Linked DNA regions of Homo sapiens. The protein of the gene in region 1 interacts with the protein of each later gene in a biochemical or structural test. Each region holds a gene or a part of one and is shown on either strand. Other genes may lie near its edges. The genes, in order: KLF8 and NFIA.

What was found.
Region 2: the proteins of KLF8 (region 1) and NFIA form a complex in vitro, tested with the Homo sapiens proteins (one study listed by BioGRID).

The regions. Positions count from the first base shown.
Region 1 is NC_000023.11:56,231,687-56,244,319, reverse strand, and holds the start of KLF8 (Krueppel-like factor 8), read right to left. Parts: upstream 11,965-12,633; 5' UTR 11,045-11,964; coding exon of another isoform or gene 10,986-11,044; coding exon 10,979-10,985; intron 1,431-10,978; exon of another isoform or gene 908-1,430; intron 1-907. UniProt on the Homo sapiens protein: Transcriptional repressor and activator. Binds to CACCC-boxes promoter elements. Also binds the GT-box of cyclin D1 promoter and mediates cell cycle progression at G(1) phase as a downstream target of focal adhesion kinase (FAK).
Region 2 is NC_000001.11:61,398,601-61,411,233, reverse strand, and holds part of NFIA (nuclear factor 1 A-type), read right to left. Parts: intron 7,131-12,633; coding exon 6,952-7,130; intron 4,673-6,951; coding exon 4,507-4,672; intron 1-4,506.

The DNA.
Region 1 (12,633 bases):
GAGGATCACATGAGACCAGAAGGTAGAGGCTACAGTGAGCTATGATTGTGCCACCGCAGTCTAGCCTGGGTGCAGAGAGACCCTGTTTCAAAAACAGAAAATAAAAATTAAATTGAATTGAATGAAATTTAAAAATGAGGAAACTAAGGCACAGAGAGATGAAGTTGCTTACCACCAAATCACCAAGTTAGTAAACAGCAGAGAGGAGATTTAAACCTCAGTAGTCTGGAGACATAAAGCAGCTATAATGAAATTACCTGGGTACCAGTAGGATCTTCCAGCTTCTGTTTTAAGCAGATTCCATAGCAGAGAATAAATGGTTGCTATAAACCAACTACTTAATAAAGGGAGATTGCAAAAGCCTCCAATTTATCTCATTTCCCCCAAACAGGCTCACACCTGTCACCATTGGAAAACTCAACCTCACCTTCCAGTTGTAGCACCTCAGCAGGCAGCTCTGTATGACTTTTCTATTCAAGAGTTTTGGGCCGGGCGTGGTGGCTCATGCCTGTTATCCTAGCACTTTTGGAGGCCGTGGCAGGTGGATCATGAGGTCAGGAGATCGAGACCATCCTGGCCAACATGGTGAAACCCTGTCTCTACTGAAAATATAAAAATTAGCTGGGAGTGGTGGTGCATGCCTGCAATCCCAGCTACTTGGGAGGCTGAGGCAAGAGAATCGCTTCACAGGAGATGGGGAGGTTGCAGTGAGCTGAGGTCGCACCATTGCACTCTAGTCTGGGAGACAGAGTGAGACTCCGTCTCAAAAAAAAAAAAAAAAAAAAAAAAAAGCAAGAGTTTCAACATACACAAAAGCTGGAGAGTGACTTGAGGTACCCAGTCTAAATTATAAGAACCACCACCACAGCAGGTACTCAGAAGTAGCTGTAAAACAGAAAACCCCGATAAGATGGCGCGGAAAGGGAAGAAGGAAGCTCCTGCCCCTCCTAAAGTCAAAGCCAAAGCAAAGGCTTTGAAGGCCAAGAAGACAGTGTTGAAAGGTGTCCACAACCACACACACAAAAAAGAAGATCCACACACCCCTCACCTTCCAGCGGCCCAAGTCACTGCGACTCTGTAGGCAGCCCAAATATCCTCGGAGGAGTGCCCCCAGGAGAAACAAGCTTGACTACTATGCTATCACCAAGTTTCCGCTGACCACTGTGTCGGCCATGAAGAAGATAGGAGACAACAGCACACTTGTGTTCATTGTGGATGTTAAAGCCAACAAGCACCAGATCAAACAGGCTGTGAAGAAGCTCTATGATACTGATGTGGCAAATCAACACCCTGATTTGACCTGATGGAGAGAAGAAGGCATACGTTCGACTGGCTCCTGATTACAATGCTTTGGATGTTGCCAACAAAATTGGGATCATCTAAACTGAGTCCAGCTGACTAATTCTAAATTTACGTGTATCTTTCCAGCAGAAAGAAAAAACAAACAAACCAGAAAACCCCTGTAGTTTTCCTGCTTAGCTTACCTGGAATGAGAGAAAAGGAAGTGGGGGCAAACTAGGATGTTAAAAAGAACAGAATTTAAGAGGAGAAAACATATTGCCACAAAAATAAATGAAGGCTGGCAGCACATAACATGTATGAACGACAGTGACAGAAAGACTGAAATCTAGTATTACATGATTACTACAACAGCCAGCTAAACTTGAAGTAGTGAAGTCATATAAGGTATTGAAAATATAAGGTGATAAGAAATACCAGAAAAGGGATTTATAACTTTGGGCAAGTCATTTGACCTTTCTATGTCTGTTTTCTCCTTTGAAAAATGGGAATACACCAGTGTAGCCCTCCCCACTCATGGCTGTTAGGAAGACCAATCATGATAACACATGTAAAAATATCTTATAAGATGTAAAGATAAAATAGCCATATAAGTTTTTAGGATTACTTCTGTCAGAAAAATTTTAAAAGTACATAAATACGGTCACATACTTAAGATGTAAACCATTTCCAGTAACAAACTTATGTATGATTTTTGATATCTTTATCTCCATTCTCCTATGAGTTCATGTTCTACAATATCACCTGCATAGCCTCCAGTGCTTTCAGCCAGTTGCGCTTCTCTCAGACGCTGATGTTAAGCTACATTTTCTTTTCCACAAAAAGAAAATAAATACGCCAGAATGAAAAATTACCTTGGAATGTGCTAGAGATTAAGATTCCTCATTCTGGAAAAAGATGAAAGCTAAGAGGAATTATGATAAAAGTCTAAAACTGGAAATACAAGTGGAGATGAAGCTCAATAAACTCCAGGCCTGCATTTTAGTTCTAGTTTAATCAGTAAATTGTTGTGTGACCTTGAGCAAGTCTCGTCACTTTATGTAGAAAGTGGAAATAACTCCTCATTCACCTCACAAGATACTTGTAAGAATCAATTGACAAAACAGATTTAAAGGTATTATAGAAACATAATCTCAGATGCCTAGAACCAGTCCCCTTGCCTTGAATCTCCATTGAACAAATATATTTATGTTTAGACAATAATTAATCTTATATGCAATAAGCAGATAAAACTCTTACTATTAAAGAAGGCCATGTGAAACAATGGGAAAATCATTTAACTAGGATCTGGGAGACTTGTATTCTAGATCAGGCTTCACTGTTGTCTAGCAGTGTCATTTTGAGTAAACTACTTAGTCCTTTTCAGATCCCTTCCAGTTTATAACATTCTATGATATATGATTTTATTACAAGGACATAGATGGAAAATCCATAATAATCATCTCAGGTTTCTGCTTAACCTGTGAGATTGATGTCAAGAAGGATTAAGTTTTCTACAAACCATCAGGTAAACTTGAGTCTCATTCCAATGGCATTTAAAAAATTACTATGAATGACTGGGTGCGGTGGCTCATGCCTGTAGTCCTAGCACTTTGGGAGGCCAAGGCGGGTGGATCACTTGAAGTCAGGAGTTTGAGACCAGCCTGACCAACATGGTGAAATGCCATCTCTACTAAAAAATACAAAAATTAGCCAGGTGTGGTGGCACATGCCTGTAGTCCCAGCCACTTGGTAGGCTGAGGCACGAGTCACTTTAACTCAGGAGGTGGAAGTTGCAGTGAACTGAGATCATGCCATTGCACTCCACTCTGCATGAAAGAGCGAGGCTCCATCTCAAAAAAAAATTATGGGTGATTTTAAATGCATACAAAAGTAGACAAAAACCCCATGCGCCTACTCTCAGATTCAATGATTTTCAGCTAATGGTAAACCTTGTTTCATCTGTACCTCAACCCACTCCCCCTACCTCAATGTATATTTTTATGCAAATCCCAGATATATCATTTCATGGCATTTCTTTTTTTAATTTTAAAGTTTGAGGTACATGTGCAGGACGTGCAGGTTTGTTACATAGGTAAACGTGTGCCACACTTCATGGCATTTCTAATGGGACATATTTAATTTTCACAATTGCCCTGTGAGGTAGGTATTACTGTTGATCCCACTATACACATGAAGAAATAGAGTCAATGGGATTAAATAATCCCAAGGTCACATAAACTGGTAAATTATTGAGCTGGGATTGGAATCCAGGTATGATGTTTGATACCAAAGCTCTTTTTTTTTCCTTAAAGTACTTGCTACTACCCTGTACTTTGAAATAGTTTGTTAGAGTTGAAAATAATAATAATGAAGGTGTTTTTATATCTTTGCAGCAAACTCTAATATTGAATATATGTACAGAGTATTAAAAGATTCCCACTAATTATTATGTTAATTATAAAACAAAACCTCTAGGAATTACAACTCCAGCATGGCACTAAGGGACAAAGAGCCACAGCAGCAAAAACTCATTGCTCTGAATCATTATGTAACATCTCATGTGATCCTCTTCATTACTTCATACCTTTATTTCATGCAACAATCTCCTCCAATAAATTAAACATGGTGGTAGTGTGGCAACCACAAATAATTTGTAACAATACAATTGGTCCTCATCCATGTTTTGTGCAACAGGTACTTAAGGGAAGAGACCTTGGCTCTTGAATAACTTTTCTACTCACTGCCTGAGCAGTGGCTCAGGAGCACCAAGACAAGGCATCCTAGAAGAGTCTTGGACCATTTCAGTTTGTAGAGCTCCAGAAAGTGAGGTTAATGCAGTAGCCAATTCAACGCTACACATCTATTCTAGGATCTAGCTACAAAATTAAGGAATAAGTATGTTATTATTCTTTTAGCACCAACTGTTATGTATATTTATCAGAACTAGTTTAACAAACAAGAAATAAATATATTCACATCACATCCCCGCCCATTCTAACTGAAGATGAAACAACCGCATCATTGAACGTATAGGAAGAAACAAGAGATGGAATAATTAGCTCCAAATAATCAAACTTAAATATATGCTCAGCATCATGTAGACCTTTCTGAAGATACTGTACTTTATTTGTGATGTACAATATTTCAAGAAAAATGGCAAATAGAAGAGAAATGCAGAAAAAAATGAAAGAAACTAGAGAAATAACCAATTTTTTTAAAAGAAAACAAAATGGAGCTAGATCAAGAAATGTAGATGATTACATCTGGCAAAAAGGGGGACAGGGAAAAAGAAAGCTGGCCTGATAATTGTCTTCAAAGGCACATTTAGGTATTTGGAGAAAGTAGAACTACTATGTCATTTACAGGACATCATGGTTAACTTAAAGGGGAACTTTCTGATGATAATCAAGTCTTTACCAAGACCCTACTAAATAGTCAACACTGTAGTAGATATTATGTGGGAAGGAGGGAGGAGGTAATACCAGAAGGAAGAAAACTTCATGGTCTCTGGCCTCTATCCTCAGTAAATTTGCAGTCTAGGTCAGATAGAGAAAACTGGCAGCCCACTGCAGATGTTGGCCTGGTTCTCATAGTGATGTTAAAGATTAAAACAGAAACATCTAACAACCTTTCAAATGCAGATTTCATGTTTTAAGAAAAAAATCCTATTTCTTGCTTTTCTAAAAAAGCTGAGAGATTTTATAATACAGAGTGTACATTGGCACAAGGGAAAAATTAGCTGGAGATGATCAACAGCTGTCCCCTTTAGACAGGGCATGCTTTTCTCATTTTACTGGGCCCTGGAGATTTAAGTTTGAGATCCCAGGTCCGTGTGATGAGAAACAATTATGCATAAAATAATAGCAATCAAATATTACAAGATAATAGATGCTGCATTGCTGGATTATGATTTGAGGCTATGAGCAATAATTGGGAGAGGAGGAGATTACTGAGAATGGAATAGTCAGAGAAAATTTCAAATAAATGGTTTGCTTTGAGGTGGGCTTTGAAGAACTACGACAGTCAAGAAGAAACAGAAAGGAAATCCAGACGAGAGGAAAAGTAAACTGCATACTCCATGAAGGCAAGGGTCCCACCTAAACTGATAGTTTACCTAACCTAAAGTGGTAAGTTTACCACTATCACCTCAGCTTCTAGCATGATGCTTCCAACTTTGTAGACACCCAGTAAATGACTGTGGAGTGAAGGAGAGTAACATAATTTTTAAAAGTGTTTTAAGGAATATATCCTTGCAGTGGTCCTCAGAGTAGAGAGGGCAGAAAGAATCAAAGTAGAACTAGAAGCTATTGGAATATTCTATGAGTACTGCGGTAAGAGCTTACATAGGTGCCATAATCTCAATATCTAGACTAGGGGTCAGACAGGTTAAGGCCACCTAGGCCAGATGAGTAATGTGGTGAACAAAAAATACAAGTACTGTTTTAAAGGGGAGGGAGGGAGAGGCTCATCAACTCTAGGCAATTATTGCCAAGAGAGAATGCTGGTTCAGTATCTTCTGATTAGTCAAAAGAAACTGGAATTGAAGAATTTTTGTTTTCTTTTGAGACGGAGTTTCACTCTTGTTGCCCAAGCTGGAGTGCAATGGTGTGATCTCGGCTCACTGCAACCTCCGCCTCCCAGGTCCAATCGATTCTCCTGTCTCAGGTTCCTGAGTAGCTGGGATTACAGGCATGCACCACCACACCCGGCTAATTTTGTATTTTTAATATAGATGGGGTTTTACCATGTTGGTCAAGCTGGTTTCGAACTGCTGACAGGTGATCCTCCTGCTTTGGCCTCCCAAAGTCCTGGGATTACAGGCATGAGCCACTGCGCCCGGCCTAGAATTCTAGAATTTTAAGGGAAATCTGATTTTGAAATATTGGCAATCAACCAACTTTTAAAAGTGTGGGACTAGGCAATTTGACACACTGCTATGAACTGACTTGTGTTGTGTCCACTCTCCAAAAAAAAATTAATAGGTAGAAGACCTAACCTAGTGACTATATTTGAAGATAGGGCCTTTAGGAAAGAAATTAAGGTTAAATGAGCTCATAAAGGTGAGGTTCTGATCTGATAGGATTAGTGTCTTTCTAAGAAGACACACCAGAGAGAATTCACTCTTTCTCCTCCCATTTGTACAAAGATCACATGAGTACAAAGTGAAAAGGTGGCCTTCTACAGGTCAGAAAGAGAGTCCTCATGAAAATCTGACCATGTTGGCACCCTGATCATGGACTCCCAGCCTCCAGAACTGTGAGAAAATACATTTCTGTTGTTTAAGCCACTCAGTCAATGGTATTTTGTTATGGCAGCCTGAGCTCTCTAATGCACTGCTTACAAAAGTTTTTATTGTTATTACAAATAACACTGCAAAAGTTTGGAAATAACTTAAAGATCAATCAACAGAAAACTGTTTAAAAATTTGTGGCTCATGCATATAGTAAAAACCTATGCAGTCATAAAAAAGAATGAGGCATTTAAAAAATGTGCATATATGAAAATATCTCCAAAGTATATTTTTAAGTAGACAAGCAAGTTGTAGAGAACAATATGCAGAATGTGTTACTATCTGTGTATAAAAGGTGAAGGGGATATATATATACACACACACACACAAACACACACACACACACACATATATATATAATAGAAACTACCTCATAAGGTTGCAGTGAAGAATAAGTGTGTTAATTTTGTAAACACTTAGAAGAAGGCATGAAAGTGAAGTAAGCAGTGAGAAAATATAGTTGTTGTGGTACTTACATATATACTAATATTATATATGTATTATATATAATATGAGCTCATCTAACCTTAATTTCTTTCCTAAAGGCCCTATCTCCAAATACAGTCACAAGCTTAGGTATTAGGTCTTCAATGTATGAATTTTTTTGGGGGGGATGGGGGGGTCACAATTCAGTTCATGTCAGTATGTCAAGTTGCCTAGTCCCACACTTTTAAAAGTTGATTGATAACCAGTATTTCAAAATCAGATTTCACTTAAATTCCTAGAATTCCAGTTTCTTTTGAATAATCAGAAGATACTGAACCATATATATATATATATATATATCCATCTATCTATCTATAGAAAACCAAACATGATTTCACATTATCTTTGAGTAAACAAATGAGCCCAATACTACAATGTTATTCACACACACACACACACACACACACACACACAAACATACTCATTGCTTGATATACACTAAATATCCCTGGAGAGATTCCTAATAAATAGATAACATTAGTTGCCTCCAGCGAGGCAAAATGGGTGGCTAGAGAACAGGAATAGGAGGGAGACTTTTTTCACCATGCACCCTTTAGTAAATACTGAATTTTGAGCCAGGCGGAATGCATTACCAATTGAAAATGCATGTTTTAGTTGAAAGTTTTTAAATTTTAGGGAAAACAAAACACGTGTGAGCTTTAGTTGGTCTGTAGGCTAATTGTTTGCACGTCTCGCCTAAATTAAGGTGGTGGCAGTTAGAATAATAATAAAGAAACAGATACCAGATACAAAGGGGAAAAAATACAACAGCCATTGGCATCTAATTAAATGAGAAAATGAGGAAGAGGGGAAAGGGACATGAGTACCACAACAGCTACATTTTCCCACTGCTTCACTTTCATGCCGCCTTCTAAGTGTTTACAAAATTAACACACTTATTCCTCACAGCAACCTTATGAGGTAGTGTCTATTATTATCCCCAATGCACAGATATGACAACTAAAGTACAGAGTTTAAATAAGTTCACCATTACTATGGTCATAGTAAGTTGCAGAACCAGGGAAGTGAAAGGAAGAGTCTTGAATGAGGAATGAGTGAAGAGTCCAGAGGTGATGATGGGCTGTATATTAGAAATGGTGAGTGTGAGGTTACAACAAAATGTCAAATTGCTAGTGATTTGAAATATCTGGATTGGGCTCTTGAGTTAGGTTATTGCTCCTTAATAATCCTAGAGCTTAGTTTGCCCACATCACATCTATTTTGTCTAAATACACAAATAACATCTTTTAGTATATTATACAGAACATCTAGCACCTTTCATATATTTAAATCCAGCTTCCTGTCCACTAATCTACATTCCACTTCTGCAAACACACAGCAGCATTTAAATAAAACAAATTTTTTTAAATAACAAAAATGATGAGACCGCAACTTATGAAACATATTAGATATCAGGCACTGAGTTCAATGCTTTCCTTACATTATTTATAATCACAAATTATCATGTCATTTTAGAGATGAGGAAACAGGCTAAATGATGAAACTCAGTTGAGGATAGTAAACATTAGCATATAAAAATCAGGAAGAGGTTGGGCACGTGGCTCATGCCTGTAATCCCAGCACTTTGGGAGGCTGAGGTGGATGGATCACCTGAGGTTGGGAGTTCGAGACCAGCCTGACCAACATGGAGAAACCCCGTCTCCACTAAAAATACAAAATTAGCCAGGTATGGTGGTGCATGCCTGTAATCCCAGCTACTCAGGAGGCTGAGGCAGGAGAATCACTTGAACCTGGGAGGCGAAGGTTGCGGCAAGCCGAGATCACGCCATTGCACTCCAGCCTGGGCAACAAGGGCGAAACACCGTGTCAAAAAAAAAAAAAAAAATCAGGAAGAATACCAAACATGATCTCACACTGTCTTTGAATAAACAAATGAGCCCAATACTACAATGTTATTCCCTTATTCATACTCTACTTAACAATAAGATGGTAATCATACTAGATGATCATCTATGTCAATCATCCTAATTAAGTTTTCCTTCATTCACAAAATCATGGCATTGTAAAGCTAGATCTTAGAAGATCATATACTGCCCCCACCGCACCAGGCACAGACAATCTGGCAAGATCAAAAATGACTAGGCTCTGTTTGCTACTTTGGTTATTGGAATTCACTTAGCCAATGAGAACCCCACCTCAGAAATGCATGTATTAGAACAATGAGAGTGGTGATGGTAGTCTGCTACATGGTTATTTTTTTCCCAATTTCCAATGTGCCCTGAAAAGTCTAAACAAGAGGGATGTATAGCTCCTGAGGGCTCTGAAGGTACAGCCATTAAGTAAGTTGGTCTTGAGGGTGGACTACATAGATGCACCTGTCATTTTTACTTTTGAGGTTATTATTTCTACTCTTCCTATGTTTTCTGCCTGTCTGCCCTCCAGGCTTACCTGAAGACATTGCTCCCCACCCATTCTCTGTGTCCCCAGCAGTCACCAAAGGTCAACAACTCTCAAGGGCTTCCCCATAACTCTGAAGAATGGGATGAGGTCATTTACCTATCACTTGTTTCTGTTGTCCAAAAGTCCTGTTGGTTATATCATTCTGGTTAAGTTGCCCAAAGAATGAGAGAAAAGGCAGGCTAGTAGCCCTTTCTTTCAGAAGTGATGAAGTCTGGTGGAAACAATGTTAAATCAGAAGCAAATAAAACCTGTGTTCTAGCCTCAGCCTTTGGACAAACTAATTCAGTCTTCCTAAGTTTCGTTTTACCACATCTGGAAGGTGTTTTAAGGACAGAAAAACACTAATTTTATCAGCAGTGGTCCAGAAAAATAGTTCCAAACTGAGTAGAAAAGGGAAGTTGAACTAAGATACAAGTGGCAGCCTCTGCCACATACACAAGATATTTCATCCACCCGAGTATCTACTGAGATAGAATTATTAATCTGCATTCTATGGAAGAGAAAAGCAAGGCCCAGGGTGATGCAGCTAATAAGTGGTGATACTAGGGTTTCAAAGCAGATTACCCCAAACCATGGCAATCTCCATCAGTTTCAAATCCAAATTTAAAGATTATTCTTTTTGCTCAATTATTACCACACTGGGTGACAGGTGCTTAATAAATGCGTTTCTTCACGATGAATATAATACCAAAAGAAATAAGACATGGTGCCTTTGGCCACCTGTTTGGATGTGATTTATTTTTTCCCAAATTCTTAGGGTTAAAAAAAAAAGCCCACAAAAAGACAGCTCCGCCAAGTGGCTAAACAAATGGATTCACTTCAGCAATCACAGCAACTCGGCCCAGTCAGTCTTCCACCTACACAGACGAACCAACTGCCTTGGCCACGTCTTAAAGGGCCGGAGCAGAGCCTAGGCTCTGGCTTCCTTCTCCAACCAAGCTCAGCCCCTCCTTAAAGAGCTGGCACGCCCAAAGCAGCTCCTCCCCCGCAGCTGCTTCCAGGCCTCACTCTGTGCCTCCAATAGCCTAACTTTGCACCTTAAACCACTGTCCCCTCCTCCTTCTTTTCAGAAGCTTCTCTAGGTACCCGCTATGGCTTCAGGGGGTTACCTGGGAGCTTTGGCCTTGTGAATCCTGTTCTCTCTGGTTGTGACTTTGGCTGTGTGGGGTTAAGTCAAAGACAATCCTTACCGCTTAAGGAGTATTGGGAGTGCCGAGCCAGGGGAGACTAGACTAGACAAATCCATCCATTCTTGCCCCCTTTCACTTCTTCCACCAAGCTCTCTCCTCTCCTTCTTGGCCTTTCTTTGCCCAGCCCTTTAGCAAAGTCATTTTCCCTTGAGTTTCATTTGATTCCACATAGTGTTCTTAACCTTCCGCTCCCGCCCCCACTGCTGAAACCCCAAGTGGGGTGTGTGGGGGGAGCAGGGGGACTGGGAGGGGGATAGAATCTAGACGAAAGAGGTGGGAGTGGGTGGGTATTAGTCCCAGAGTCACTTACCGACCATGTCACTAGCTGAGGACTCCTGAAGTGTCCAGAACTCATGCCGTCCTCCGGGAGGCTCATACTCCTGAGCTGATCGCAAGAGAGCTGTTCCCCTCACACCCGCCCCATTCTGACATAGCGCAGGGCGACGCGTTCTCGTCTTCTCGTTCTTGGGCCCCCACTCCCCTATTTCTCCGGGCTGGAAAATGAGGAGGGGGTCGAAAGGGGAGGGAGTCGATTCAGACCCAGCTGGGCCACTCTCGGAACAAGGGAAACAAAGCTCTCAAGCATCCAACCCAAAAATCAGGGGCCGGCAGAGTAGACTTCCTAAAAAGAATCCTCCCCCCTGCAGCTTTTCCTTGGACAAAAATAAAGTGGGTTCGCTGGGCCGAAGTGGCCAGAGCTTAAGGTCCTCCGTTCCCCTTTTACCTCTACCAATTCAGTTCCGGCCAAGCCCGCTCTCCACCCATCCTCTGAACTCCACACACCCTTTAAAAGGAGAGGGCCGGGGGTGGGGGCTATGAAAACCAACCCAACCCCCAAAGCGCTACTTGAACATAAAGTTGAGGCGGAGAAGAAATCCTTCAAGACAGGAACCCACGAGGAGATACCACAAGAGGATCCCTTCACCGCCGCCGTTGCCGCCGCACACCCCAGCGCCTTCCTAAAAAGAAAGAAGGGAGGAAAAAAATGCCGACGATTGGTAGAATCATAGAGAAGAACACCAGCCCCAGGGCAGGGGCTTCAGCGAAAAATGGCAGCAACTCGTGCGGGTCCTCTGGGGCGGGGTTTCTTGGAGGCACCTAGCTGCCCCACGGGGTACCTCGCGCCCCACGCGAGTCAGAACCTAAAGTGCTCTCTGGGCAACCTGAGTGGGTAGAGTGATTCCGTCTTTCTCTGGCCCTGCTAGGCCCAAAGGAGAGGTGTGACTATCGTGAGGACTCCACCTAGGGTGGAGTTCCTTAAAAAGGACAGGCGGCCGCTAGAGGAGAGTGCAAAGTGGGAGGAGGTGGAGAAGGGTGGGGCTGAGAAGGAGGAGGGAGGAAGGAGGGGGTGGGGCGGGGCCCTGGGCCGACAGAGCTGGCCTCGCCTCCGGCGGCCGCCTCCCTCAGCCTCCAGCAGCGGCAGGTATAATTCCAATCAATTTCACTTCCTTATCTGTCCCAAAATTAAGGCTTGCAAGCACACTGCTTGATTACCTATTTACTCCGGTTATGCTAATTCTCCAGGGGAGGGTGGTGAAACGGGTACTGGGATTGGGGCTGGGGGCTGTCTAAGAGGGAAAGGAGAAAACAAAAAAGCTGACAACTGGAAGCGATATTTATCCTCCTACCTCTCCATGGTAACACGAACAAGGACAGCGAGGTCACAGTGTCTTCTCAGGGAGGAAGCTAAAAGGAACGGAGATTGGAGCTTGGTGCATTTTCTAGCAAGAGATAAGCCAAGGAGGTGAGGGCGAAGGAGTAGGTGGGGAAGAAGAAGGAGTTGAAGATGATCTGTGAATACAGCGTGGCCCAGCAGGGAGACTTAAGAAAGGCTTTCTCAGTCTCCCAGATACCAGACCTCTAAGAATAGAGTTCTCAACCCCCTGAGACCGCCTCTCAGCCAGGCATTGGCGAAGATCCCCGTAAAGCTGAATCCACAGGATAGGAGCCATGTTTCCAGGATTT
Region 2 (12,633 bases), on another chromosome or scaffold:
GCTTTTCTGGCCACAGCTGCAAAGTTTAGTATTAGTGCCAGAGGCAACTGATTAGTTAAAAAATACATACTCTGCTCCAGGCTGGCATCCATTTGTATTTCATTATAAGAAGATATTAAAAATGATGCCTTGGACTTTTAACCGTCTACAGCACAGCACATCTGTTACTCCTGTTTGTTCTGATAATCTGACTACGAGAGTGAGTAGAGCAGTTAGTGTTATTCCATCAATACATAAGGGAGTTGAGGTCTAGAAAAGCTGATAATACAGAAGACACTTGGCATATTTTCCTACTTTTATTTTTATTTATTTTTATATATATTTTTTGAAACAGGGTCTCGCTCTGTCACCCAGGCTGGAATGCAGTGGCGTGATCTTGGTTCACTGCAGCCTCAAGCTCCTAGGCTCAAGCATTTTTCCTGCCTCAGCCTCCCAAGTAGCTGAAACTACGGGTGCACGCCACCACACCCAGCTAATTTTTGTATTTTTTGTAGAGATGGGGTTTCACCACATTGCCCAGGCTGGTCTCGAACTCCTGAGCTCAAGCAATCTGCCCCGCCTCCTAGGCCTCCCAAAGTGCTGGGTCTACAGGTGTGAGCCACGAAGCCCAGTCCCTATATTTATTTTTAGAATTGTATTTTATTGCAAGTCATCTCAAACTCCTAAATAGAAAAGGCTGTTTTACATCATACAGTTTACATTTTTGAGAACAGCCTCCATTTCAGACATCAAACTGTTGGGATGCTGAGCACATGTACTGAATACCCTGTCATGATGCTCCTTCTTGCTAAAGTTGAGCTCTCATAAGCTGACAAGATAAACAGAATCCACTCAACCTGTGTGTTTAATTTCTAAGAAAGCACCTGATTTCTGAAACTATAGTTTTGCCCTACATTTTTATCTAGTGGTAATCCAATTTTAGGCCCCCAGCTGGTTTCAGAAGAAAAGTTCTATCTTCTCTTAAGACACCAGGATGTCATCCCTACTGAATAGCTTAGAAGTCAACTCCTCTAAAATACCTTTACCTGGAGGCCCACACTGGACCAAACTCCCTCCCATGTCTTCACATGGCACCTATACACACCTTTATCCCGGTGTCATCCTGTGTAAACTGCCTGTTTACCTTTCCCTCAATAGATCCCCATTTCTTGAGAGCAGGGATCCATCATCTCTGAATCCCACACACTAACACAGCCATGCCGTGTCACAGATGCCTGATAGGTGCAGGCTGAATAAATGAATGAAAAAGGCAGTCATCAAAGATGAATGTTAAGGGAGGGAGAAGCTACTTCACTCCTGATATTTATTCCCTTCCATCTACTCTTGGCTTCTCTCCACCCTCTCACCTGTTACTCTCTAGGTTGTAAGGGCTTCAAAGGAAAAACTGGACATGACTAGTCCCTACCACCCCACCCTGTCTCTTCCTCTTCGGGGACAGGTGCTGGTGGGAAGCACACTGCCACCCGCACCTTCATGCCATCAGCTTTACAGGCTAGGGCGGACCATATGTAGGAAGGGCTGCTGTGGTCTAGTCCTGCCAGCGACCTGGTAGCTATGACGATGTAATTGGGGGTTCAGTGTTAGGAAGTGCCCTGCCCACAGTTATAAACTAAATTCTCTCATAATAAAGGTGATATTTTGTCTTCTGATTTAAAAAAATATTTTATTTATCAATTGGTTTAGAAATCAGGGCATGGGAGACGATATTTTAAAATGAGGGCCCTTAAATCCCCTCCAAATAAGGATGAGTGGGCTTCAAGATTTTTAATTTGAAAGGCTTCTCCTACGCTATAAATTACAGCTCTCCCAGCCTAACACCATCTTGTTAAGAAAGCAGAAAATGGTAAGCAATAGTATGCTGTGAAACTACATATTACTATGAATTCATCATACCCTAGAAAAGCCTTTAGCTGAACAAGGGCTAAAATGAATGATGATAAAAACCTTTCTGTGTCATCGGTAGAACATTTTGTTTTGTCTATATTTCTAGAATCCCATGATTCAAAAAGTAAGTATCAAATTATCTGTATCAAGCTCTGGGACTCTTTCTCCTGATATTCTCTCACCCCCACCCCACCCCAAATCTTAAGTGCTGCTCTAACATGCAACCATATGAGTTGGATCTGCCAAGACTCCTTCTGCCCTTTGCCCCTTAGTGCTGACAAGATGCTTGAGGCTGGGCACAAGAGGATGATAGGTATCATCTTATACATAGCACTTGGTTCAATCCACGGAGTGGAGTCTAGAACTGTGGACCCAAAGGCATCAACTCAATTTAGGGGTTGAGTAGCTTCTCCAAGTCCTACAGATATATTTTACCATTACCCAAGCCTGGAGTCTTCCACTATGTAAGAGTTTGGGCAGATAATAAAATACTCCAATGATCAGAACTGATCTCACAACAAACATGCCAGGTAGATATTATCATCTACATTTTATAGAAGAGGAAATTGATTCAAAGAGAAACACAGTTAGTAATTTGAAAGGTGGGCATTTGAGCCCCCATCCTTTAGACTTGAACAGCCACACATTACTATTTCCACTCTTCTGCTGTGCCTCAGCAGAGCCTCATTCCCGTTACTGAAAAACTCATTAGGACACACGAGCCATTGAGAGTGGAGGTGAGGATCTGTTTCCACGGAATTGATTGCATATTACTATGCAGCTTTTAAAAGACTGTGGCAATGTCCTGCACAGACAGAGAGAAGACGAGCAGAAAATGGTATGCAGAGGCATGGACAGGGCACAGTAGGCATAATCTGTAAGCCAACATCCTCAAGGAACAGATGTAAGTAGAGTCTGGGGCAGTTATTTCTCTGACTTGTTTAAAGATGTTACATAAATACACAACGAGCAGGGCACTTATTGTGTATTTATGTGACATCTTTGAACAAGCCTCAAACCTCTGAGAAGCAGAGGCTTTCCTTCTAAGCTGAGCTTCTAAGATCCATGGGCCAAGCCCAGCTTGCTTCTCTGTCATTGGACACTGAGGGTTTTCTCCTTTGTTGACAAGTGTTGAATCACCTCTTACCAAGAGAAGTAGGTCTTCCCTAGATTGCCCCTGAACCTTCAATCTTTTGGCTATTGATACAGAATCTATGCACAGTGCTGCTCATTTCTGCATATATTATCAAAATGCATAAATACTGGATAACCCAAAGCTCACTCTCTGATGTGTCCATGAGGGCCTCTAGCCATCTGGATTCCGTGCCCCCAGAATCAAATTCTATGAACATGGCATAAACAGGGGCTCAGTTTTCTTCTTTGTCTCTTTCCCTCCTGTATTCACTATCATTATTATTCCAATACTGAAGGTAAGGAAGCTGAGAGGCCTAGAATCTTCATTCACCGCATTCATCCAGAGGACTGTCCAATCCCGATGCTTATGTCTACAAAACACTCCCCACCATGTCCCGTTCCATTCTACACCTATTACTGTGGTTCAAGTTCTTGGCCTTAACACTCCTTTCCTATGCTGCTCTTACATCCTTTCCTCTGTAGATTCCTTGCCTCAGTCTCACTTCTTTTGACAACCCCCTTGAAGGCTTTCCTTAGGGTCACACTGCCACAGCTCCTATCCTTCTCTTATACTTTGCTGCCTCTTTACAGCTTTAGGGAAGGTGCTCATCACACCATCTATCAAGGCTAGGGCATCCATCACCTAGGAACTCCAGCCATCACTCTTTTTGTCATTATTCCAGGCACTAATAAAAGGCACATTTGTGCATTCAAACTATTTCTATCCCCTTGCCATATCTAAAACATCAGGGAATATCTGGAGAATTACTCTCTCTCTAGTTCAAGTAATCATTCCCATCATCTAAAAGGGTTGTGAAATCTTATATTCTTTGATTAAATGTTCTCAGACTGTTCAGAGAAGAGCCAAGACTTCTCTCCTCCTTCCATCCTACTCTCCCCTCTATCTCCGTACCCCAGCCCCTACCCCAACCTCTGCCAAACCTCACCATGCGACTGCCAGGGCTACTAGCATTGATCTTCTGCCAGGCTCTTACTCTCAGCGAATGGTCAGTGTACACACCTTTGAGTTGGTGCTTTGATCTAGACATTTTCTCCTATTTGATGTATGAGGTATATAACTTTCAAGTGCATTTCTCTTAGACTGCAAGTTCCTGGAAGGCAGGGCTGTCTGTAAGAATGAGGAACTTTTTCTAAGCAGAATCCATGTAAGTAGCTGCTGCTTGATGATGGGAATAGCATTTGAAATCCCTCAAATAATATACAAAATGTAATAGCTCATAACTTGACTTCAGTCCTAGGTATGTAGCTACACCATCTCATCCACCCAACACCCAGTGTTTTCCTCATCTGGTGGAGTACCCAAGAGTCATGTTCACTTTGATTCTCGGTCTGGCAAACTCATGCTACAACATCACTGGGGATCTGTGCCTCTTTCTAGAGCCTATACAGTGAGGGACAAAGCCTAAGTGTGGATTCCAGTGCATACAGCTTTAGAAGTGACCGGCGCCTTGTCGCAGCCATACTTACTTGGTGACGTGGGGGAGGCTGCACCTCCTTCTGTTGACGTGGTTGGAGGCTTTGTGTCTGGCACCGGCAGAGGCACAGGCCTGGCCATCGGTGGTGGCGGTGGCGGTGGCAACATTGGGGTGGGAAGGAATGGGTTGTGCACCTTGCCTTGGCTGCTCCCATTGGGCTGTGGGGGGGGGGGGGGCAGAAAACACACGTACAAGAAAAAGAAGAAAGAGACAGCAACCATTAGCTGCTTCTGAAAACAAAATATTCATCAGGCACCTTTAATGTAAATTACTAAGTATCTAGCTGCTTCAATTCTTCCATAAGCCCATACGGAAATGTCCATTGTTGGGTTCTGTTCTTAAGGCATTTCACAAAAGTACTCTTAGCCACATGTGCTCCATGCATCCTAAACTTATCTCTTGAACTACATTGTCCTTCTTTGCATCTGGTTTCATAAAATCACCTGCCAATTATCACTTTGGATTTGTCCCCTGAGTAACCAACTTTTGCTTGGAATCTTTTGTATTTTTCTGTATTAACTGCTACCTTCATTATCTTTCTCATGATTATTAAATATTTAATATCTAAGTGTTTTATGGACTGTGGCATTATTCCACTATGTTTCTTTACATAGATAGAATAAATTTTCCTAAATATGCACTTGAGATAAAAAAGTAATATTTTATTTTCACTCTTCAAAGTTGATATTATATAACATTTAATAAATGTGTTAAGTGAACATAGAAAATTTTGTTCACATATTGTATAACATCAGGCACAGAAACTTTAGAATTCAGCTGTCAGAAGTCTGCTAGGGAAAAATATCACTTCTAATTTTGATTTAAATTATATAAGCATATGCCATAAGAGTCATATTTATTTTGCTGCCTGATGTTAAAACAACCAAATAACAGCTCTTTAACAAAAAATTCCCCTCCAAAGAGAGCAATAAAACCCATTTTATTTTCAATTTTTTCAAAATAGTTTCATGAAGAGACCTGCCTTAAGTCCTATAAAATTCTGATCAAAATGCAAAACTGGGCATTTGACAGTTATATAGGGTGTCAGGACTATTACAAAAATGGTTAATAATTTAGAAGTCAGATGCTTGATGCTGGTGATCAGCTCAGTTTTTTCATTGTTTCCCAAGAGGCCTCTATTCAACCAACGACAACAGTTCACATTTAGTCCCCAATCAAAATTCGGTTGAAGGAGATTCTGCTGTCCCAGGCTTTTACATTTAAGCTTAATAATTCTACAGAGGCAGTCTCACTCCCCCATCAACATTTACTTATATATTTAGTACTTATATATTTAGTATTGCTCCTCAAAGACTACCTCGTCTGACGATCAGAATGCTGTGCTTTCTTGCCAGCAACCTTGCCTTTGCGTTATTTCTGAGTGGGCTGAGAGTCCATAAGTGAATGCTTTAGAATAAGCCAAGCAAATGAATGTACAAGCAAAAAGAAAAGAGGCACCATATTGATTTGTTGTCTAGACAGAAATGTATCTGCTAACACATCACCAGACATTAGTCAAAGCTGCCTGTTCTGGCGCAGATATGCAGAATCAGGTATTTCTGCAAGTGAAAAAAATCGGTGACAGGATGGTGTGACATACTATCCTAAATTGGCCAGTAATAATTATGGCTAGTCTGTGACTTCATGCACAGTTATTAGTAGAAAAGGAAAATCAAATTTGGCTTTATGCTGGTCGTTGTTTATTATTATTGGCCTTGAGATACAGCTTTCCACTGTAAACATCTAATCCTATATTTGAAATAAAATTTCTGATTTTTAAAAATCACTTTTACATTTGGAATGCCATTTCAAATTGTGATTATTTGGTTTATTTGAGGAAAAATAAAAACATTCATGTGAAGCTATTGAACACTGTTTAGCTTTATACCAAGATAAGTGGGAAAGATAATGACTTGCAGAAATAACAAACCATAATAAACTGTACTTTCAGCATCTTGAGTTCAAGTACTGGTCAACTTGATCTAAAGTGTTACAAGACTGTATTTTTCAAAAATATCAACTTAGTTGATCTGAAACATCTGTCCCCTTCATCTCCCTACCTTTCTCTACCACCCCAAATCATTATTTAAAACTACTTGGTCTTTCTATTTTGTTAACTGTATGAGCCCTGGGGTTAGAATGCACGAGGTGGAATGATCAGCCCACAGAACTTAGAAGGTTATATAGTTCACCCTTGAGCTGATTTATATCCATAAACTTGACAGTTGCAAACTTAACACAAACACTGTTTTTAAACCCTGACTAATCACTCTTAGACCAAGTTAACTTTCCCACAATCTAGAATAAATATGACATTTGCCTGCAGTCAGTCAGCACAACATTAGAGCACAACGTCACATGATCATAAGGTCTCCCCTTGTTATTTTTATATTCGGCTAACATTTCTAAAGAAATGGAAAAAAAGAGGTTTCCTTACATTGAGGAACCCCACCTGTCCAGCCTGCTGACCAGCATCAGGGCAGACAAGTTGGACAAATTCTTTCAGCGTCTCCTGAGGGTGATAGCGGATGGCTGGGTGTGAGAAGTAAGGCCCAGGCTGCTGGATAATGGGTGATGTCGGGAAATGAAGAGTCGATGGTGTTGCATGCGGACTTGCTGCAGGAAAAGAAAACATCAGGGTTATGAAAAGAAAGACCTGCTTTGTCATAGCTGAACCCGATTCAACTTCCTCCTTTATTTCTCTTCCTGGCCCGATTCACAATATTGCTCATGTGACTGAATTTAACACTGGATAGGTCTGACAGATTTTCTTCCTTAAGGCTCTAAGACAAACACGGAGGTTAGATTAGGGTAGAGTTTCAAGCTGTCTTTCTATTTTCAGTGGACATGAGTTATAAAGGCATTAATAATCCTTGGTGAGGCTGAAGATTATTCATTACCTTAAGAGCCTTTTTAATGAAGCAAGCAATAAAAAATGTATTTGGTAGATTAGACCTGACTTAACTGACATTACATATGACAAATTCTAGTTTGCACATATGGATCCCCTTTCACGCTGAGCTATCCATAGACAATAATTCATTGTTAAACCTCTTATACCCCTTTCAAGGAAATTTCTAGGGACTAATTCAGGATGAAAATTTTTTGAAGTATGTAGTAAATGATCACTTAATGAGCCCATGCAATTTGGGTGCCTCACTTTACACGGATGGTTTATGTCGCCTTCAGATGCCATTTCAAAGACAAACTCAGAAATGCACATATGTTACAGCAGGGGAACCCACAGGGTAAGCAGGCAGTGACCCCTGCTAAAATGTTGGCCCTGTGCCCATAAAAACTGATAAAAGACTCAGACAACTACTGCTCCCTTACATTTGAACCCTGGTAAATTTCATGTGAACAAGAAGATTACATTAGATTAAAAAAACTTATGTGAGGTGCCTAATAACTTCTCTAAGAGAACTTTTGCCCTTGAATTAGAAGGATGATTGATAAAACTGGCTGGAGGATAAGAGCAGTGCATGGGAAGGTTGCAGATATTCAAACCAAGTCAAGCCAAGATAGCAGCAGCTCTTGCTTCTCAATGAGAGCCAGAGAAACCTCTCCCAAATTAGAGGAGATGAAAGTATTTATCTTTCCTTTCTTCGGTTTAAATCTTTAAACTGAAAATCACAGGAATGTCCACATTTTGGAAAATAAGACCTTTCCAATACCAAGAATGACTCATAATACTGAAGAGAAACTCAGTAAGACAGGCCATCACTTCTACCACTATCCCACTTGCATGGCTAAAGGCTGTGAAAAAGAATGCATCTGTATTAGTTGCTGGGCATAGGTTCTTTGTTCCCTACCGGGATCTCCTCATGATTGGGGCACTTTCTGACTAATGACTGAAATGGCTCATGCTATGGGGTTCAGAGTGACATCTGTAGTTTTCAAAAAGACTGGAAATGGGCGATTGGAGGGGAAGCAACTTTCCAATCCATGTCTTGCAGGTGGTCTGGTGCAACCCTTTAATTTATGCAATCTTTAATCTGCCCAATAAATATTCATAGGCTCCTACTATGGGCTCAAGAAACAAATCTGAGCCAAAACAGATGAAATTTTGCCATCGGTCATACAATTGAGGATGTCTCAAACATAACCTATTTGAATCAGAATTTTCATTACCTTCTCCTCTCAAGCTTACACTTCTCCCAGCCTTCTCCATCTTCGTAAATACCTTTTCAACCCACTGCAATATCCCCAGAACTGAGTCTGGCACTCAATAAATATTTGTTGAATGTGCAGTGAATGACTGAATAAACAGAGGTTAATAAGATAATCATACCGTTAAACATAGAATAAAATTTGCTAAAACCAAAACTTGGTTTCTCCACCTGGTCAAGAGCCAGGGAGCTTTTAGAAAAATCGGTAAAACTGGCCTGGTACGGTGGCTCATGCCTGTAATCCCAGCAATTTGGGAGGCTGAGGCAGGCGGATCATGAGGTTAGGGGATTGAGACCACCCTGGGTAACACGGTGAAACCCCATCTCTACTAAAAATACAAAAAAATTAGCCAGGTGTGGTGGTGGGTGCCTGTAGTTCCAGCTACTCCAAAGGCTGAGGCAGGAGAATGGCATGAACCTGGGAGGCGGATCTTGCAATGAGCCGAGATCGCGCCACTGCACTCTAGCCTGGGCGACAGAGGGAGACTCCGTCTCAAAAAAAAAAAAAAAAAAAAAAGAAAAATGAGTAAAACTTAGGACTTCCTGCAATGAATGATAAATCTTGGGATCTATTGTTGTTGCTTGTTAAAACCCACAAGCTAAAAAGTTAAATGGCTCTGGTCATCTCTTACTCTGCAAATTATGCCATTGGCTTTCAAGAATCAAAGGAATTTTTTCATCCAACATGGTACAGTCCTCCTTGCTGGTGGCAAAAAACTTGTACTCGGTACCCTGCGTCTGATGGAATAGTCACTAGTTAAGGACAGAATGTGATATTTCCCAAACTAGGCTGAGAATATACTGAGCCTAACAAAACGAAACACTCAACTTTTGCAGAATGCCAAACACAAAGGTGCCAATTCTGCTGACAAGAGCCCCTGGTAGGCTGACCTTGAAGATAAAGTGCCGCTGCCTCAGGTGCTCAATGGAAAGTGATGGGTAATTGTTAGATTATGAAATCACGGTGGCCTACAGAAAATGCTGCCCAAAAAAGAAATTCACTTGAGCAAAGATCAAGCAGAGCTGATCTTTAAAGAAATGAGATAGAAGAAATAACTCAAAAGCACCCTGTCATCTCCTCATTAACTGTTATAAACATCCTTTCCCTCATTTTGTTGTTGTTAAATACGTAAAAGACAATCATTAGCAACTTAAATTTAGACCTTCGTTTTTTATTTTACTAAAAACAATTTATTCACCATTTCCTTGTGGAACAGAGTTTAACACAAACACAAGAACATATGGTACTATATGGAATTAATTCTACAATGACTGATTTATAAGAATCAATTAATTCTTAATTAATACCAGGAAATCATTTAGCCTGTAGTTTCAAATTGGGCAATTGCTGAGTCTGCATTTTAAAGGGTCATCCTTTGCAACCCTTACTTTCTCATGCTTTGGACTTTCTGGTTCAGTCATCAGTTCACTGTGCAACTGGAGAGAAATCATTCGAGATCCTGAACCTTCATTTCTTCAAACAGAAAATAGTTACGTTACTGACATCACAAAGCTCTAGTTATTATTAAATAGATGCTATTTCTCTAGATAACCTGCTATTCCTCTTCTACCAGACAATGAAACCCACTGAAACTCAGAATTAAGATGTCATCAATGCCTGCCTAACTTTGTTTCTCTTCTCTCCTATTTCTTGTTTTCTCTCTTCATCTTGGATGTTTTTACTGTACCTAAGTTTTTATTTGTCTCAAATCATTTTAGAAAGAGCCACTGGGGTTAAATCAATTAAAGAGTAAAATTCATCAACTATATTTTGAGGTGGCCAGATCAGGCTTTATAGAAAAAAACTACCATTATGAATTTGGCATGATGCTAATGGAATGCACGAAGAATGGTATGAGTCCAGATTTTTGACGAAGAAAAACATGTCTTATGGATGTGTGTGTGTGAGTAGTTGACACCATAAAAAATTATAGCACATTATGTAAATGCATATTTAGATCCTTTAAAATGTGCATTATTTACTTGAGAGTCAATAAAGGCTTTTCTCAAGTGGTTACAGTTTATTGCAGTGCATCCATCTGTATCCACATTGATGTTAATACAATTTTGTGTATTAAAAGACACTACAAAATTGGCTGCTTCCGGCATCTAATACTCTTAGTACCCTAGGCCAGGAGCAGCAGAGAGTGTCAGAAACACTTCACTCCTGATGGATCTCACTACTAGTTTAAACTTTAACGAGTGGCCAGACTTGTTTAAAACAACTGTTTGGGCTTTTCACAAAGAATATAAATAAGATGGGAAGGAAGGAAATTTGATCAGGTTTCTTTGGCTGCAATGGCACTGCCTACACATCCTGAACAAAGTAGCCACAACGAAAAGAAACAGAGAGCCACAATTTCCCAAAGGGTGTAATACTCAGCTATTTATTACAAAATGATCATATTACTGGATACTTTGAAAAACGAAAGCAGGTCAGTCAGGTTGGTTTACTTGTTCATTCCCTCCCCACCAGTCCAGCAGCCCACCAGTTCTTAAAAATCCTCTCTTGGTTTTAGTTTAAAGGAGAAAAAGTTAAAAATTCAAACAATTGAAAAAATACATATACATGTTTAACTCAAAAATGCTTCTTCCGTTAAAAGCAGAATTTATTAAGACTGAGAAAGGAGAAGGTCAGGATCATTATTGTATTATTGGATATGTTGCAAGACTTCTATAATACAACCAGTGATTCTTGGTCTGAGAGTCCACTATGGGGAGGAGGTCTTGTAGACACATAAGAGTGCTCTTAAGAGGAGTCAGAACTAGTTAGAAAATCTAAGCGTGGGCCATATGAAATAGGATGGTATCAGGGAGCTGTGTCCAGACAAGCTTGGAATCTTGCATTTTTCTGCTTTTATAAGTCTTAGGGAAGAAAAAGAGATAGAAGAAGAAAGTAATCTCTTAGTATTTCCAGTAGTTTTTCTCAAGCTCATCCTCCAAGAACTCTAATAACTCTCACACATTTTCCCTCAAACCAAAATTTTATGGGTTGAAATATGTTCTTCTGTATTATAACCCTGACATTGCCTTAATTGTTTTATTCCTTGTCCATGAACCGTTGCAGATTCTCACACACTGGACAGAGACTTGGATTCTTTTCACGTTAGCTTTTGCTTTCTGGCATCAGCCTTTAAATCCCAGTCTCTCTTCTATGGGAGGCTCCAAAGAAAAGCTGTCAAGAGAGCAACACAAACAATAAAATATAATCCTCCTTCAGGCACAGTGTGCTCTTAAGGCAGTGTTATATACAGGCTTCTTCCCTCACAAGAGCGAATAATCACTCCTGAGCCCTGGCATCTGCAAAACTTCACAGTCTTAGTGTTAATGAATACAAAGGCAGTGGCAACAGGTGAGATTCCAAACAGTTTTTCTCTGTTAGCGCCATTATAAGAAAAACCTTCTTATCTGTCTTCAGAAATAAGATGTTCTTTAGATGAAAGTTACCACTTCCATAGCGTAAGGGTGGCATTAAGAACTCTTGACTACTCATAATTAGAAGTAAAAATTTGTAATACGGCAAAGCTTCAAAAGGAAAAGAAAATCGAAGAAAAAAATCCCACTTAAAAAACAAAAGAAGCTTTCCATAAGGGTAAATAGAACATAAAAATGGCTTGGGTTGTCAACTACTATGTATCTTGCTTCTTCAGAAATTCAAAACCACACTATATAACACCATTATACCCCACCTAAAGCTGAGAAATCTATCTTAATGGTCCATAGCCCTAATTTATAAATCATGCATGAATCAGGCCTGCCATTGATGAAAGCTGAGAAGTTTGGAGTTAAGGGATTTATTTTAACAGAGATACAGGAAAGAAGAATTGGCAATGCTTTTCAAACCTTTAAGAGGTGATGCCTTTTCTAAATAACAAAGCTTTTGACTCGAGGTGAGCCAAGGTTTTTCAAAACATATGGTACATATCTTTTAACATCACGAAGATGCACGT